Linked DNA regions of Homo sapiens. The protein of the gene in region 2 interacts with the protein of the main gene of each other region in a pairwise test. Each region holds a gene or a part of one and is shown on either strand. Other genes may lie near its edges.

Evidence for each region.
Region 1: the proteins of SFT2D1 (region 2) and ARFIP1 interact in binary tests that used the Homo sapiens proteins (3 or more experiments, as listed by UniProt).

What each region holds. Positions count from the first base shown.
Region 1 is NC_000004.12:152,866,948-152,873,971, reverse strand, and holds part of ARFIP1 (arfaptin-1), read right to left. Parts: intron 3,220-7,024; coding exon 3,124-3,219; intron 1,521-3,123; coding exon 1,408-1,520; intron 1-1,407. UniProt on the Homo sapiens protein: Plays a role in controlling biogenesis of secretory granules at the trans-Golgi network. Mechanistically, binds ARF-GTP at the neck of a growing secretory granule precursor and forms a protective scaffold.
Region 2 is NC_000006.12:166,339,540-166,347,355, forward strand, and holds the start of SFT2D1 (vesicle transport protein SFT2A), read right to left. Parts: upstream 3,007-7,816; 5' UTR 2,943-3,006; coding exon 2,880-2,942; intron 1-2,879. UniProt on the Homo sapiens protein: May be involved in fusion of retrograde transport vesicles derived from an endocytic compartment with the Golgi complex.

The DNA of each region.
Region 1 (7,024 bases), on a different chromosome or scaffold from region 2:
GTTACAGAAGTATGAGAAAGCACAGATTGTTTAGGAAGTTTCTGGGAAATTTGGTATGAATCACTTGATCCATAGATAGAAAAGAGGCAGAGACAGAGTGGGAAAGGTAGATAGAGGTCAGATTCATGCCACTCTAAAAACAGTGGGGATTGACTGAAGGATTTTAAGCAGGAGCGAACCCACGTTAGGCAGGGTCGAACATGTAGTCTTAGCGAATTGGTTAAGAAGCTGTTACAGTAATGTGAGAGAGTAATAAATATGAACTATGGCTGTGAAGGCTGGGATGGAGGAGAACGGGGAAAAGGTGAAAGAATATTAAGAAGGCAGAATGCATAGGACTTAACGACTGACTGGCTATGTGGAATCAGCAAGAAGATGCAATAGAAATCCGTGAATATTTTAGAAGAAGAGTTTAGTTTAAGCAAGCATCACTTTTTGAAGACTACCACTGGGATTTCTCAGATTCTACACTTTCATGAGCTAAATAATTTTTGGACAGATTCATGTAACATGTTTCAGGGAGGTTTTACCATCTTAAGAAAACCTATACTTTTGTAGAAGACTTCTACATCATATTTTTAAGGTATTAACTGAAAGAATAAATTCACTTCTGTTTTACTGTTGAGAAGATGTAAGAAAGGCCTGTTCTGTATAAAAATACAGACAATTCCTAATTTACCAATCACTAGACCCACAATCAGTTCACGAATATAGGGAGAATTGTGGCTAATGTTCTAACCTGAGCTGCTAGGGCTTTCATCCTAACTATTCCACGAATTCTACAGTCTTGTCCCTGTTAAAATTCAAAAGGTACTAAGTGGATTTGGGGGTTGAGCTGTTTGTAATACATCAAATACAATATGGGTTAAATAATTTGCTTATTTGTTTTATGGAGGGCATAAGAAAAATAATCACCAATTACTCTGAAGCAATGCAACTAAGAATGTTAACAAACTTTAGAAACACAACTAATTTGCAATCTGGTGTTGCCCATATAGTTAATGCTTAGTTATTATAGTAAAATCAGAGAATTTCAAACTTTGGAGAACTAATATACCTCTCTTCACCTTCAGCTCCTATAAAGTATCAAAAGGAGGGGAAGGAGCAAATATATCTATAGTAGCTCTACAGCTAAATAAATTCCAAAGCAGTACATGTCTTCAATTATGTACATTATCGGTTAATAAGCATTTTAATAGCTTTTTTACTCTTTTGTACTAAATTCTTAAATTACATGCAAAGATCAATGATAAAACAAATACTTCATTTTCAAACTGTATTTCTACCATGTTTAGATGGCATTTTCTCTTCTCTATGTGCATTTAATTGCAACATAATGACTTGAATAAACATATAAATGAACTTTTTTAGAGCCATTTAGGGTGGAAACATTAAATAATTACAAACCTTATAGGTGTTTAGACTCCATTTTCTAACAAGTTCTAACTTTTCCATTGCAGGATTTTTAATTTCATCTGCTAGAATAACTGGTCCACTTTTTGTCTGTGTTCTCTGGCCACCTGCAAGATAACAAAAGATAAAAACACAATCCAGATGAAGACAAGCAGGGAAAGAAAACAAAACCCTGATATTGTTCAAATTGAAATTCTTATGCATCTAAAAAAAGAAAAAAAGGTTCCCACAAAGTAAAGAACTAGAACTTCCTGGAATCGCTGAGGATAGTTTCCTAATTACTTAAACAACACTTCTGTCCATTAAACACAAATGCCATGTGACTTATCTGTCTTCTTTAAACAAACAAACAAACAAAAAAACTCTTGCTGCAATCAGCCTTATTTTCTATATAAGCTGCCGCTTACTTCAAGAAAAATAAAATTTCCACAACTAATTTTATACACTAATGACACTAAAAAAGAAGTATCTTGGTCGATAAAAATCTAAAAGGCCACGTATTCCCCACAGTGATCTTTCACTGTAATGTGCAGACTACAACAACAATAGAATGTTGCTATAATTTTGGAGAATTTGAAAAAAATAATTCAAATTTCATACAGTAGTTCAATTCAAATAGTCATTAAAGATATGCTATCACTAGTATGAAAGGCTGGGTTGAAACAAGATCTATATTGTACCTCTTTTTTCTCAAGAGACCACAAAAAAAAGGTAAGAAAACCAAAAAGAGCCATAATGAATAAAGAAGCAGTGTAAATTCCTGACAATGTACTCTTCCAACAATTAAGAATTTTTGATATGAAAGCAACTCTACAACTATATAGTTCTTAATAGTAAAATACTTTTCATAGTCAAAATATTTTTCATTTCAGTTTTTGGATGGAAACTTTCTAATAATTTAAAAAGAATAATGAAATAAGGAAAAGAAAAAATTAGGATCAGCCCCCAGTAAAAATCCCCAAAAATTTCTTCTCTCACTTATTCCTATAATCAGACCAATCTTTCCCATAGCTTTACCAGTCCGAGAACAAGAATGGTATATAAAATAGAACACATTTAAGAATTTACAAAATTCTCACAAAACAAAATATAAATGTTAACATTTCATATAAGAAGAAACGTGGAGTTCATTTTTTCTCCCATTTTTATAGTCCAGTAACGGTAAAGTGCAGAGCAAATTGAATGTAAAGATACTGATTTTCCCAAGTATTTTTCATTGGGTATAACTGGTAAATTAACAGTATTGTGTTGCAATCTGCAAACTATTTGTAAGTTAAAGCTAAAAGTAAGAAGACAAGACCTTTTTCATTTAATCCATTCTTAAAAACAACCAACCTAATTGTTGAAGGTTGTTTTTCCTTTAACTGAAAATAGAAGGCAGAGCTGCAAAGATGAGAGTTTAGGATCAAACAGTAAACCTACAATTTCCAGAGCAAAGAAAGAATGATTTAAAGCAAATCAAATTTTATAATGTTTTAATTTTAAAATGGATTAAGTTTCAGGTGTGAGATACAGCCGAATTATTCTGAAAAGCCACAAAGATAGGATACAGTTAGAAAAATTATTTCCTTTATTGTTAATAAGGCAGCCACCAAAAAAGTCAGAATCACACACACCTAAGAATATAAAGCAAGTGATTATGAAACTGAGTAAATTAGTGTAGCTTCAGCAGTAGCAATAAGTGCTTTATCCAATCAGTGCAGTGAATACCTGCAGGAACAATTAAATCACTTCCTTGCTGAGCCAGTCGACTAGCTGCAACCCTGCTAGGAGACATAACAGATGGCAGTGGCGGTGCTGGGGAACCTGAAAAGGTAGACATTTTAACTGTGAAAATCCTTTTCCTCCTCCACATACTGTACATTTTGAATATAGGGTTACTGATATTTCCTTTAAAATATTCAAACACTAGGATTAAAAGTTGGAATTAATATATTTGTTTTCTTTCAGGGAAGGACTAATAATAAATGTATGCTACCAGGCTCAGTTTTTATATAAACTTTTCATCAAACTATCAAAACTAAACAGAATATGTAACTATATAATGAAATCTGGTAGATGACATCTAACCAGGATTTTAACTGGACTCTACTATTTCCAAAATCAGTTAACAGAATGTGAATACAGTCCCATAGCTGGATGATTTAAAGCTTCAGTAAATATTTCATAACTTGCTACTCTCATATATAAAGGAAAAGCTCTTCAAGTAAAAATTCAAAGGCATGTAAGGGATATTAAAACATGCTCTCATATCTCTTATAAGAAATGTGAATGAACTACAGCCTTCACAGGAATTGTAGCCAAAAATTTCAAATCACAAATCAAATGTCACATAGTGTGTCTCATTGCTATTCATAATGTGGACATAGAGGACCTTCTTCAATTCACCTGGACGCTTGTTAGAAATGCAAAATCTCAGACCCTGCCCAGACCTACTGAACCCAAACCTACATTTTCATAAGATTTCCCCAGGTGATTTGTATGTACTTTGAAATTTGAGAAGTGCTGATGTAGAATATTTTTTGACATTATAAGAATCACTTTTGGAGCTTTTAAAACATACCTGCGATACTCAAAAAGATCTACTGATTATCAGTGAAACAGGCATCTATTCTTTTGCAAAAGCCACTCAAGATGATTCTCAAACACAACCAAGTTTGAGAACCAGAGGAAACAACACAATTTTTGAATGAAACACAACTAAGTTTTAAATTCTAACACTGAGTTTAAAATTCTGGCTCTATCTACCACATGATATCAGGAACACCCTGGCAAATTACTAAACATCTCTGAGCCTTAATTAGCTACAAAGTAAGAAACATTAACTACTGGCTGAGAGCGGCGGCTCATGCTTATAATCCCAGCACTTTGGGAGGCAGAGGCAGATGGATTGCTTGAGCTCAGGAGTTCAAGACCAGCCTGGGCAACATGGCAAAACACCATCTTGCTGGGCATGGTGGCACAAGCCTGTAGTCCCAGCTACTCAGAGGTTGAGGTAGACGGACTGCTTGAGCCCAGGAGGAGGAGGCCGCAGTCAGCCAAGATCGCACCACTGCACTCCAACCTGAGTGACAAAGCCAGACTCTGTCTCAATTAAAAAAAAAAAGAAAGAAAGAAAGAAACACTGACTACCCAACATTGTTGCTAATGTCTAGCATTAAACAAAAAAAGGGAGTAATAGGTTTCTAAAACTGAAAAAATATTAAAGTCCTTCCATGTTTAGCTGAGAATATTTTAATGTCTATAATGTACTTTTATTTCAATTACACTCTTCCCCAGTTCTCTGGAAAAAATACATGCATTAAGTACATAATTAAATTTCCTAATAAGAAAGACATGTCTACTTTCTTTACTATTAGTAATAACTGGTCATATTCCAGATGTACTAAATTCTGACATAGAAACTGTCACGAGTTCTAACAGTATAAAATATACCTTAACTTGAACTGGATCTCACATTAAAATTCAAACATGCAATAGACCTAAACTAAATAGATTGTTGTTAACTTTCAAAATGAGAGATATTTTTCTCTTTAAATCTGTTAAATTATAAAATTTAAAACCAGAAGGGATGATGGAAATCAACTAAACTGTCACATTAAACGGTAAGATTAATGAAGCCCAGAGAAGTTAAAATAGTTTCTTATTAGAGACTCAGATGTTCTGAACACCATAATATCTCCATTATTAAATTCAATATAGAAATCACTAATCTACAAGTTACTTGCTGAGTTGGAAGGCATTTTAATAGGTTATCCAGTTCAATCACCATTTTAAACAAAGACTGTATCTCTACCGTCCAAGGCATAAGGGATTCTAAAATAAAGTGTAAAATAAAAGAAGACCACTGTACTTCCATGTCTTGACCCCAGGAATAGGAGCTCTATTGTTCTAGTTATTACAGTTTCTTAATCTTGCATAAGAAATAAACCATAGCACTACATGGGATGTGTATAATATATATAACAAATGATATGTAAATTTTCAAAGTAAAATAGCAAATGATGTAGTGTGGCTGTAACTGGGACTTCAGCTTTTTTGATTTACCTTCAAAGGTAATTATCACTTTTCTGTATCTTTAATACTTTAACCCTTTAAACAACTGTTACCAAAATCATTCACCAATACCAACTAAAAAATAAATAATAATACAGGATCTCTCAATAATACAGGATCTTACTAACTGGCTAAATTTGGGGAATTAAATCTATTTCATCTCAACAACAAAAATCTAGAAAGATGAATACATATGTGCAAAGATTTATACCCCCATTAAAACAAAACCCTGGTACCAAGTACACTTCACTCTTGTGAGCTTTGATTTATTCATGATTTCCACTATTACTGATTCTGCAACATCTTTGGTGCTAGGCCGATTTCAATATTTGTTGTTTTTAAGCTGAATTTAAGTATAACTTTTTAATTTGCTCTAGATAGATGAAAAAGTAGATGGTTATACTCTTCTTGTTAACTGTTTAAGCAATAGTCATAATTTATCATTTAGTCATCTTTCCAGAGAGCTAACACAGCCCTAATTCCTTTAACATTTTTTCATAAGACCTATTTTCCAGATTGTAACCATTGTATGTTATTCTTTCTCATGTTCATTCCAATTTATCTACATATATCTTAAAACAATCACAACTTTCCAACAAATGCTTAACTAATTTAAGTATAGCAGCAGAATGATTATTTTCCTAATACACTGATCAACAATACAGTTTGGATTTTAAAATGTTTTACAAACTCAGTTCAGAGAGACATATATTACTGCCATTATCACGAAATATATTTTCTTATTCCAATTGGAAGGATTAGGATGTATCTATAAGCAAGTGAAACTGATGGGCATTTTAATGCTCATGTATATCAGTTCATGATGGCCAACTGATTTCAATTATTGTATAATACCATTATACAATAACTTTAAGGGGAAAAATGCCAGCTAAATAATTTCATTAAAAATATTTAAAAGATTGCTTTTACAAGTAATTGTTTCGAGACCCTCTCCCCTCTCCCCTCTCCCGTCTCACCTCTCTCCCTCTCCCCACGGTCTCCCTCTCCCTCTCTTTCCACGGTCTCCCTCTGATGCCGAGCAGAAGCTGGACTATACTGCTGCCATCTCGGCTCACTGCAACCTCCCTGCCTGATTCTCCTGCCTCAGCCTGCTGAGTGCCTGCGATTGCAGGCACGCACCGCCATGCCTGACTGGTTTTTGTGTTTTTTTGGTGGAGACGGGGTTTCGCTGTGTTGGCCGGGCTGGTCACCAGCTCCTAACCGCGAGTGATCCGCCAGCCTCAGCCTCCCGAGGTGCCGGGATTGCAGACGGAGTCTCGTTCGCTCAGTGCTCAATAGTGCCCAGGCTGGAGTGCAGTGGCGTGATCTCGGCTCGCTACAACCTCCACCTCCCAGCTGCCTGCCTTGGCCTCCCAAAGTGCCGAGATTGCAGCCTCTGCCCGGCCGCCACCCCGTCTGGGAAGTGAGGAGCGTCTCTGCCTGGCTGCCCATCGTCTGGGATGTGAGGAGCCCCTCTGCCTGGCTGCCCAGTCTGGAAAGTGAGGAGCGTCTCTGCCCGGCCGCCATCCCATCTAGGAAGTGAGGAGCGCCTCTT
Region 2 (7,816 bases):
CCATCTTCTTTCTATTCTCCCCTGACTTCAATCAGGCCTCTGACCCCATCCAGCCACCAAGACTGCTCTCGTGGAAGTGACAACTGATAACCTCCACGGGTAATCTGCTCTTAACTTCTGAGACCCATCAACAGTACTGGGTCCCATCCCCTTCCTAAAGCACTCTCTTCCCTCACTTTCTGGGGCATCCTTCTCTCTTGGTTCTCCTCCTCCTTCTCTCGCCACGCCTCTCAGCTGTCTTTGCCGGCTTCTGCTCATCCTCTAAACTTCTACACACCTAGAGAAAACCAGAGGTCAAACCTTGGACCTCATCTTGACGATCTCATCTCTCTCCTATTTCCTCCCACAAACTCTACAGTGTTACGTCCAACTGCTTTCCTCACATCTCCACTTGGATGCTACCTGGATCTCAGACTTCACGTCCACACTGAAATGATTTTCCTCCCTGAACCTGCTCCTCCCACAGTCACTTAATGGCAACTCCACCTCTCCAGATGCTCAGGTCGAATGCCATGAGGCATCCTTGCCTCCTCCCACTCTCACACATCCAATCCGTCAACAGTGTGGCCTGCTGGCTGTACACTCAGACCATTTACAGAATCTGACCACTTTTTTGTTTTTTAAACAGGCTTTTTTGCTCTTTAAACCACTTCTATCACTGATTTGAGCCACAGTCATCTCTTGCCAGGACAACTGTACTTGTCTCCAGCCCAGTCTCTGGGCTTCTAACATTGCCTCTACAGTTTGTTCTCCACAGAGCTGCCAGAGTGATCCTTTAAAATCCAAGTCGGTCACACCACCACTCTGCTCTAAACCCAAAGGCTTCCTATCACACTCAGAGTAAAGCTAAAATCCTTTCTATGGCCTATGAGAACCCTCACAATTGAGAATCCCCCTTCCTGCTTCACCTTTTCTTCTACAATTGTCCCTCTTCTCTGCCCCGCTGCTAGAGCCCCTCTGGCCTCCTTACTGGCCCTGAACATGCTGACCACACACCACTTGGGACTCTGTATCTGCCTTGGAGGCTTTTATTCACAGGATGCTCAGACATCCCAGCAGCTCTTCTGAGCTGTGCTCACATGACTCCCTGGCAGGGAGGCCTTATCTAAGTAATATGGCAACCCCAACCTCCTCAACCTGCTCTGACTTTTTCTGTGGCTGTCTGACACATTATATACTTGTTTATTCACTGTTTCCTCCAATTAAAATTTAAGTTCCATGTGAAAGAGGTATTTGCACTGGTCACTGTTATTAACACCTGCATCTTGAACAATGTCAAACATATGCAGGAACTTGAATATTTGTTAATGAACGATCACCTCCTCTGAACTCACAGCACTTGTCTATACAGCCAGTCACTCTAATCTTTGATTGATTACTTCTCCACATATCTTTCTCCCCTCTAGACAGTGGGCTCAAGATAAGTGATATTACCTTTGCATCTCCAAAGTTTAGAGTAGCACTGTCCAATAGAACTTTCTGCAATGCAAATGTTCTGTATCTGCGCTGTTTAATACAGTAGCCTTTAACCACATGTGCCTACTGAACATGTGAAATGTGGTTGCTGTGACTAAGGAACTGAATGTTAAATTTTATTTAATTTTAATTAATTTAAATTTAATTGCTCCAGGCGCAGTGGCTCAAGCCTGTCATCCAAGCACTTTGGGAGGTCAAGGTGGGCGGATCACTTGAGGTCAGGAGTTCGAGACCAGCCTGACCAACATGGTGAAACCCCCATCTCTACTAAAAACACAAAATAATTAGCAGGGCATGGTGGCAGGTGCCTGTAATCCCAGCTACTCAGGAGGCTGAGGCAGGAGAATTGCTTGAACCCGGGAGGCAGAGGTTGCAGCGAGTCGAGATCACGCCACTGCACTCCAGGCCTGAGCGACAAAGCAAGACTCCATCTAAAAAAAAAAAAAAAAAAAATTCATTGGCCACATGTGGCTGTGGTAATATACAGAGTTACAGAGTGCAATGAGAACAGATACTTGTCTTACACTCTCTGAACCCAAAACTGTAGCCCAGAACTCTACCCACACCAAGTGCTGAGTAAGTATAATGACAAGGAAGTCAGGAGAGACAAATAGAAGATCCTTATGAAATACAATTCAATTTTAAACGTCCAACTTCTGCGACAGCACACAATAACGTGCAATATAATCGCATGCAATAACAAAAAAACTTACACCGCAGTTCCTGCTCCACTGCTACTTTTAACCTTCTTGCTGGAGGAAGTAACCCTTATCAAGTCTCGCTGGTAAGGCGCAGACACAAGGGCTTTTATTAAGAAAAAAAAAAAAATCTCTTACCAGGGCTCACTGCCTTAACAGAAAAATTTTAATTCAATATTATTTCACTTACCAATGTCCTGTTTATTTTTCCTCCAGTCTCCCTATTTCCAAAAGACCACCCCCCAGCAAACACACACATAACACCACCTTTACCTCCAAAGACAAACAGATGCAACAAGCTTTAGGGTCTCGGCTCACTGCAGCTTGCAGGATAAATGCCCTGCATAGCTACTTACGCTGCACAGCCCGAGGCCAGACCCCGCACCAGGCTCAGAAAACCAAATAGTACGTGGGAGCGATGGATTATTTGGGAAAGCGAGGGCAGACGTTAGCGGATTCCTAAGTCAGAAGGCCAGATGGGAGAGTCGGGGGGGGGCCTCAAAGTGGGTTTAAGTAGACCGCATGGAAAACTGGAAAGTTCTCAAATTCTACCCAGGAAGCAGGCGGAGCCCTCCTAAATCAACCAGCCGGGCAGAGGAGTCCCAGACCCCCGGCCTCGCACCCACCCCACCCGCTCGGCCGGTCCTCAGTGCGGCCGGGGCCAGCGGGCAGCCCCGGGACTGGACGAGGGCGCAAGTTCGCTACCTGCGCAGTCAGGCCCTGCTCCTCGTCGTCCTGGCCGCTCAGGACTCGCCGCAGCTTCTCCATGGCCCTGTTACAGGGCCGTAGCGGCCGCCACTCTGTTGCCTGCCCCTGACGCCCACCAGGAAACCCCGAACCCGAAACCCCACAGACCAGCCGGAAGTCCGGTCCCGCCCGCTTCCTGTGCGTCAGCGCGGCCGCCGTAGCAATGCGCGCATGCTCACCAGCCTTTCTCTCGGACCCGGTAGTGGTCCGTGAAGTCCGCGGAGTGGGCGCTGATGGTGGGGCTATCCCTTCCCACTGTCCGCGAGGTGCGCCGTGGTAACGCGCGGGGACACAGCGCGGGTGTGGACCCCCTGCCCACAGCTGGCGCACAGCCATTGAGTGTAGACCCGACTGGGGCACGACCACTGAACCCTGCACTTGGCGTCCTCCGGGCCCCGCGAGGGGCCTTGCTGGGCGGGTCCGCGGCACCCCGGGTTCCCAGAAGTCGAGGCCCCGAATGCGCCTCCCCTCGCCTGGAATCGGAGAGCGGAGGGCTCCTGCGGGCAGGTGGCCGTGCTCCGAAGAGCGCCCTGCCACCCATGAGGTGGCCCTGGGGGCGTCGCTAGCCTTCCCAGCTGGGTGTCCTCATCCGGAGACACAAACACCTGCCTCAGGATTAAAGCGAGGAGCTGTATTTCAGACCGTCTCAGGAGAAATAGCAAGAGGCTGCCTCACTCCTTTGCCCTTGTGAGAGCTATTTCTTTACTCAGTTCACTGGTCAGCTAGGAGTTTGAAAGAGTGAAATCTTATTTATAAAAGGAATAGCTAATGCAACCCATTTTTCCAGTTTTGTGTGAACAGTGAAACCATTGAACAAGCGTTTACTGTTCTCCGGCTCGTGCTGGATGAACAAACACTAAGAAATGGGGAAGTGGCATTTTTCTCTCTCTCATTTTCCACCATGCTAAGAAAGGAGATTAAAAATCAGGGCTGCCTGTCTAATATGGTCTCCAGAAGTCATTAAGTGATAGGTTTTGCTCTTCTGTTTGCTTCTAGGCTTGGTAAGATGGTAATGAGAATGCCTGTTCTTTTGATTACTTTGCCCACTCCATTTCCTCCCTAAAATCTTTCAGTTAAAAGGTGGATCCTCAAAAAGTTTCATTGTCCATCCTACTGCCTCAGTAGAGATTTTATCTAAACTCAATTAGATAAAAACAAATACCACAGGAACCCTAGGAAAGCAAGTCGCGCCTTCTTGTGATGAAACGGTCCAATGCTCAGCATCCTTTTCCTTTAGGCAGAAGATATTTCTATGTGGCCTGTTCATACTAATATGAGAAGTCTTATCCTTATGTCCTTAACTTTAAAAGGTCAGAAAATAGATTGTAAAATCTATAGAATAAAACTATGTTTCTGTTGAATAAGAGAGTATGTCCGTAAGTGTTACGGGAAAGGGGTCCGGATCCATACCCCAAAAGAGGGTTCTTGGATCTTGCGCAAAAAGAATTCAGGGCAAGTGAAAACAAGTTTATTTAAAAAGTAGAGGAACATCGGTAGTCTGAGGCAGAGAATTGCTTGAACCCGGGAGGCGGAGCTTGCAGTGAGCCGAGATCGCGCCCCTGCACTCCAGCCTGGGCGACAGAGCGAGACTCCGTCTCAAAAAAAAAAAAAAAAAGTAGAAGGACAAAAGAATAGCTACTCCATAGGCAGAGCAGGGCTGTCTATTACCAGGGCTGCTGGTTGCCCATTTTTATGGTTATTTCTTGATGATATGCTAAACAAGGGGTGGATTCATGCCTCCCCTTTTTAGACCATATAGGCTAACTTCGTGATATTGCCATGGCATTTGTAAACTGCCATGGCGCTAGTGGGAGTGTAGCAATGAGAACGACCAGAGGTCTCTCTTGTTACCTTGGTTTTGGTGGGATTTGGCCGGTTTCTTTACTGCAGTCTGTTTCATCAGCAAGGTCTTTATGATCTGTATCTTGTGCTGACCTTCTATCTTATCCTGTGTCTTAGAATGACTTAACTGTCTGGGAATGCAGCTCAGTGGGTCTCAACCTCATTTTACCCAGCCGCTATTCAAGATGGGCTTCTCTGGTTCACATATCTGACATAACTGCTTTCAAGATTTTCAAGTATAGGCCGAGCGCGGTGGCTCACTCCTGTAATCCCAGCACTTTGGGAGGCAAAGGCGGGTGGGTCACAAGGTCAGGAGTTTGAGACCAGCCTGGACAATATGGTGAAACCCCGTCTCTACCAAAAATACAAAAATTAGTTGGGCATGGTGGCGGGCGCCTGTAGTCCCAACTACTTGGGAAGCTGAGACAGGAGAATCGCTTGAACCCAGGAGGTGGAGGTTGCAGTGAGCTGAGGTCGCTCGTTTGCACTCCATCCTGGGCAACAGAGTGAGACTCTGTCTCAAAAAACAAACAAAAAAACCTTACTTCCTAGCTCTTCCTGCTTCCTGGCCACATAGTTTTTTCAAGAGCCAATGACTCCTGAACACAAGGACATGCACAAAATTGTTGGGGTGATCAGACCCAACACCAGGTTGTGGGAGTGACAAAGTCCAGCAGAGTCAAAAGATTGAGAAAAAAGTTTGAGAGAGAAATGTGGGACAACAGGGGCCATTGCTATTGCGGAGGCTGTGAAGGCCCCGAGCTCTGGGAGCCCACAGTGTTTATTGGTAATCCAACTAAGAAACAGGTGGTGAGAATGTGGAGGTCATGTTGCATTAAGCACATGATTTACAGCTGTGACAGTTTAGCATTTATATGGAACATGTTCTGCTACTTGAGATAATGGGAATAGGTGCCTAGGAGCCTAGGAAGGCTAGAAGCAAGGAGCCAGCAAGTCTAGACACATTCCAGAGGACATTATGCAAGCCCTGCCTCAGTTTCCCCCCAACACTCAGCTTTTTCCCAGCATGCCCCCCTTCTCTTTATTGTAAAAGAGAAGATATCATTATTACTAGCTATCATTATTACTAGCATGGCTCTGGTTTGAATGCTTCCCACATATCTCCCCTTTCCCTTTTACAAGAAGACCCTTAATCCTAGGGGTTGCAGAAGGATGAAGGTCCATCTTCTGTAACTTCTTCATGCTGAATAGGGGTGACGATATTCCTGTCTAACTGTTAGGGTCTCTCATATTCAGGGTAGAGAGGAGCTGAGTCAGAAAGCATTGGCCCGTTAAGCATCGTGACTCCGGTCGGTCCTCATTCCTTCTTCGCATTCAGATTCAACTGGCTCATGGCTCACACTGGGGGAACCCGGTCCAAGGTTGGGATCCATGGGTACCTCCAGTCTCCCATTCCATGGTCGTACACATCTTGAGGGTATCCACACGGTTTGTTCATCTCCTGCAAAAACACAAGCATACCCTCACCCCCACGTTAGTAAATCTACTGAAACAGAAGCAAAAACTTTTGTGGCTGTAGCCGGGAGGCCACTGATAATGAGAAACAGGCCTTTTCTGATTAACAGAAGGCATAGAGAAAGCAAATCGAGGCTTTTCAAACCTTCAATTCGCACTGTACTCTACATGTGGGTCCACTAGATGCCGTGGCTCGTGATAGATCTTCAGATGGTTGGTGGGCACCCACACAGACACCTGAGTGTCACCTGGAGAGACACAAGCAAATCCTCTTCCCCACAAAATTATCTTTAGGCAGGGATCAGAGGACGTAGATTCAGAGGTAAAGAGAATTTGGGGGGCCTAATGGCTTCCTCATGTTTGATAGGTGTTCCCTCGGAAGTTAGGAATTCCCTTTCTCTCCATATTGCTGCGTGGGCTTGGAGGACTAGGTAAGCATGCTTAGAGTCTGTATATTTAACCTTTTTCCTTCTAATTCTAGTGTATAATGGCCCCTGCTTTTGCTAGAATGTCTCTCCCTAACAAAGGAGTGGGGCTTTCGGGCGTAATTAGAAAGGCATGTGAAAAGAGTAAATTTCCCCAGTCACAACTTAGTGGCTGGGAGAAGTATCAAGTGACTGCCTGTCCTAGGACCCCTCAGATAGTGACAGATCTGGAGGACAATTGTCCAGGACAGGAGAGTAAGACTGAGAAGACCGCACCAGTGTCCAGGAAACAGTTAACCTCCTGGCCCTCAATGGTCAAGCATACCTGGGGCTCTGTGTGGGTGATGGCATGGGCTGGTGCTTGCCCTGGTACCCTCAGTCCTGCTGCTGGATCATCTGGTTAGTGGCTTCTGACTCAGAGGACCTTTGTCCCCCAGGGCAGTGGGACTTCAAATTCAAATTCTGAGGCGTTTGTTGTTAGGAGTAGAAAAGTACTTTCCGAAACACATACCTTCTCCTTATTGGAATATCCCCTTTATCTACTAAAATGTACAGAAAACTCTAGGGCAAAAACTTCCCAAATGTTTGTAAATCTCAACTCCTCAGATGTAGTGTCTGGGCTAGGTAAGGCAGGGGCATAGACTGGAAAAAGTATAAAGCTTCCATTTTTTGTTTGCAACCAATTCTTCTGCAGTGATTAACAAATGGCCTTGATGCAAATAAAGAAAATCTACCCCTTAACTGCCCTCTGCCTCCATGAACATGCCTAGATGGAAATGTGGGTAGTGAGAGGGGACTCTTGATGTCACAGAAGGGTGCTTGGGACAAGGGTTTGTTAATTCATTGCCATTTGCTCAGCTCCTAACCAGCTATGAAACTGCAAGAAAGTCACTTGCAAGAAAGTCCTTGGATCTTTGGTTCCTTATTTTATTTTTAAAAAAGAAGAAGAGGGAAAGATGAGATTATCTCTAGTGAACTTCTGGAATTACCACCCTTTGCCCATTGGTTGATGCAAAGAGAGAGAGAGAGAGAGTGTGTGTGTGTGTGTGTGTGTGTGTGTGAGAGAGAGAGAGGGAGAGAGAGAGAAAATGGAAAAGAAGTGGTGCCTGAACTGAAGGAGCTGATCCTATGGGGAGAAGCCCATCCCACCAT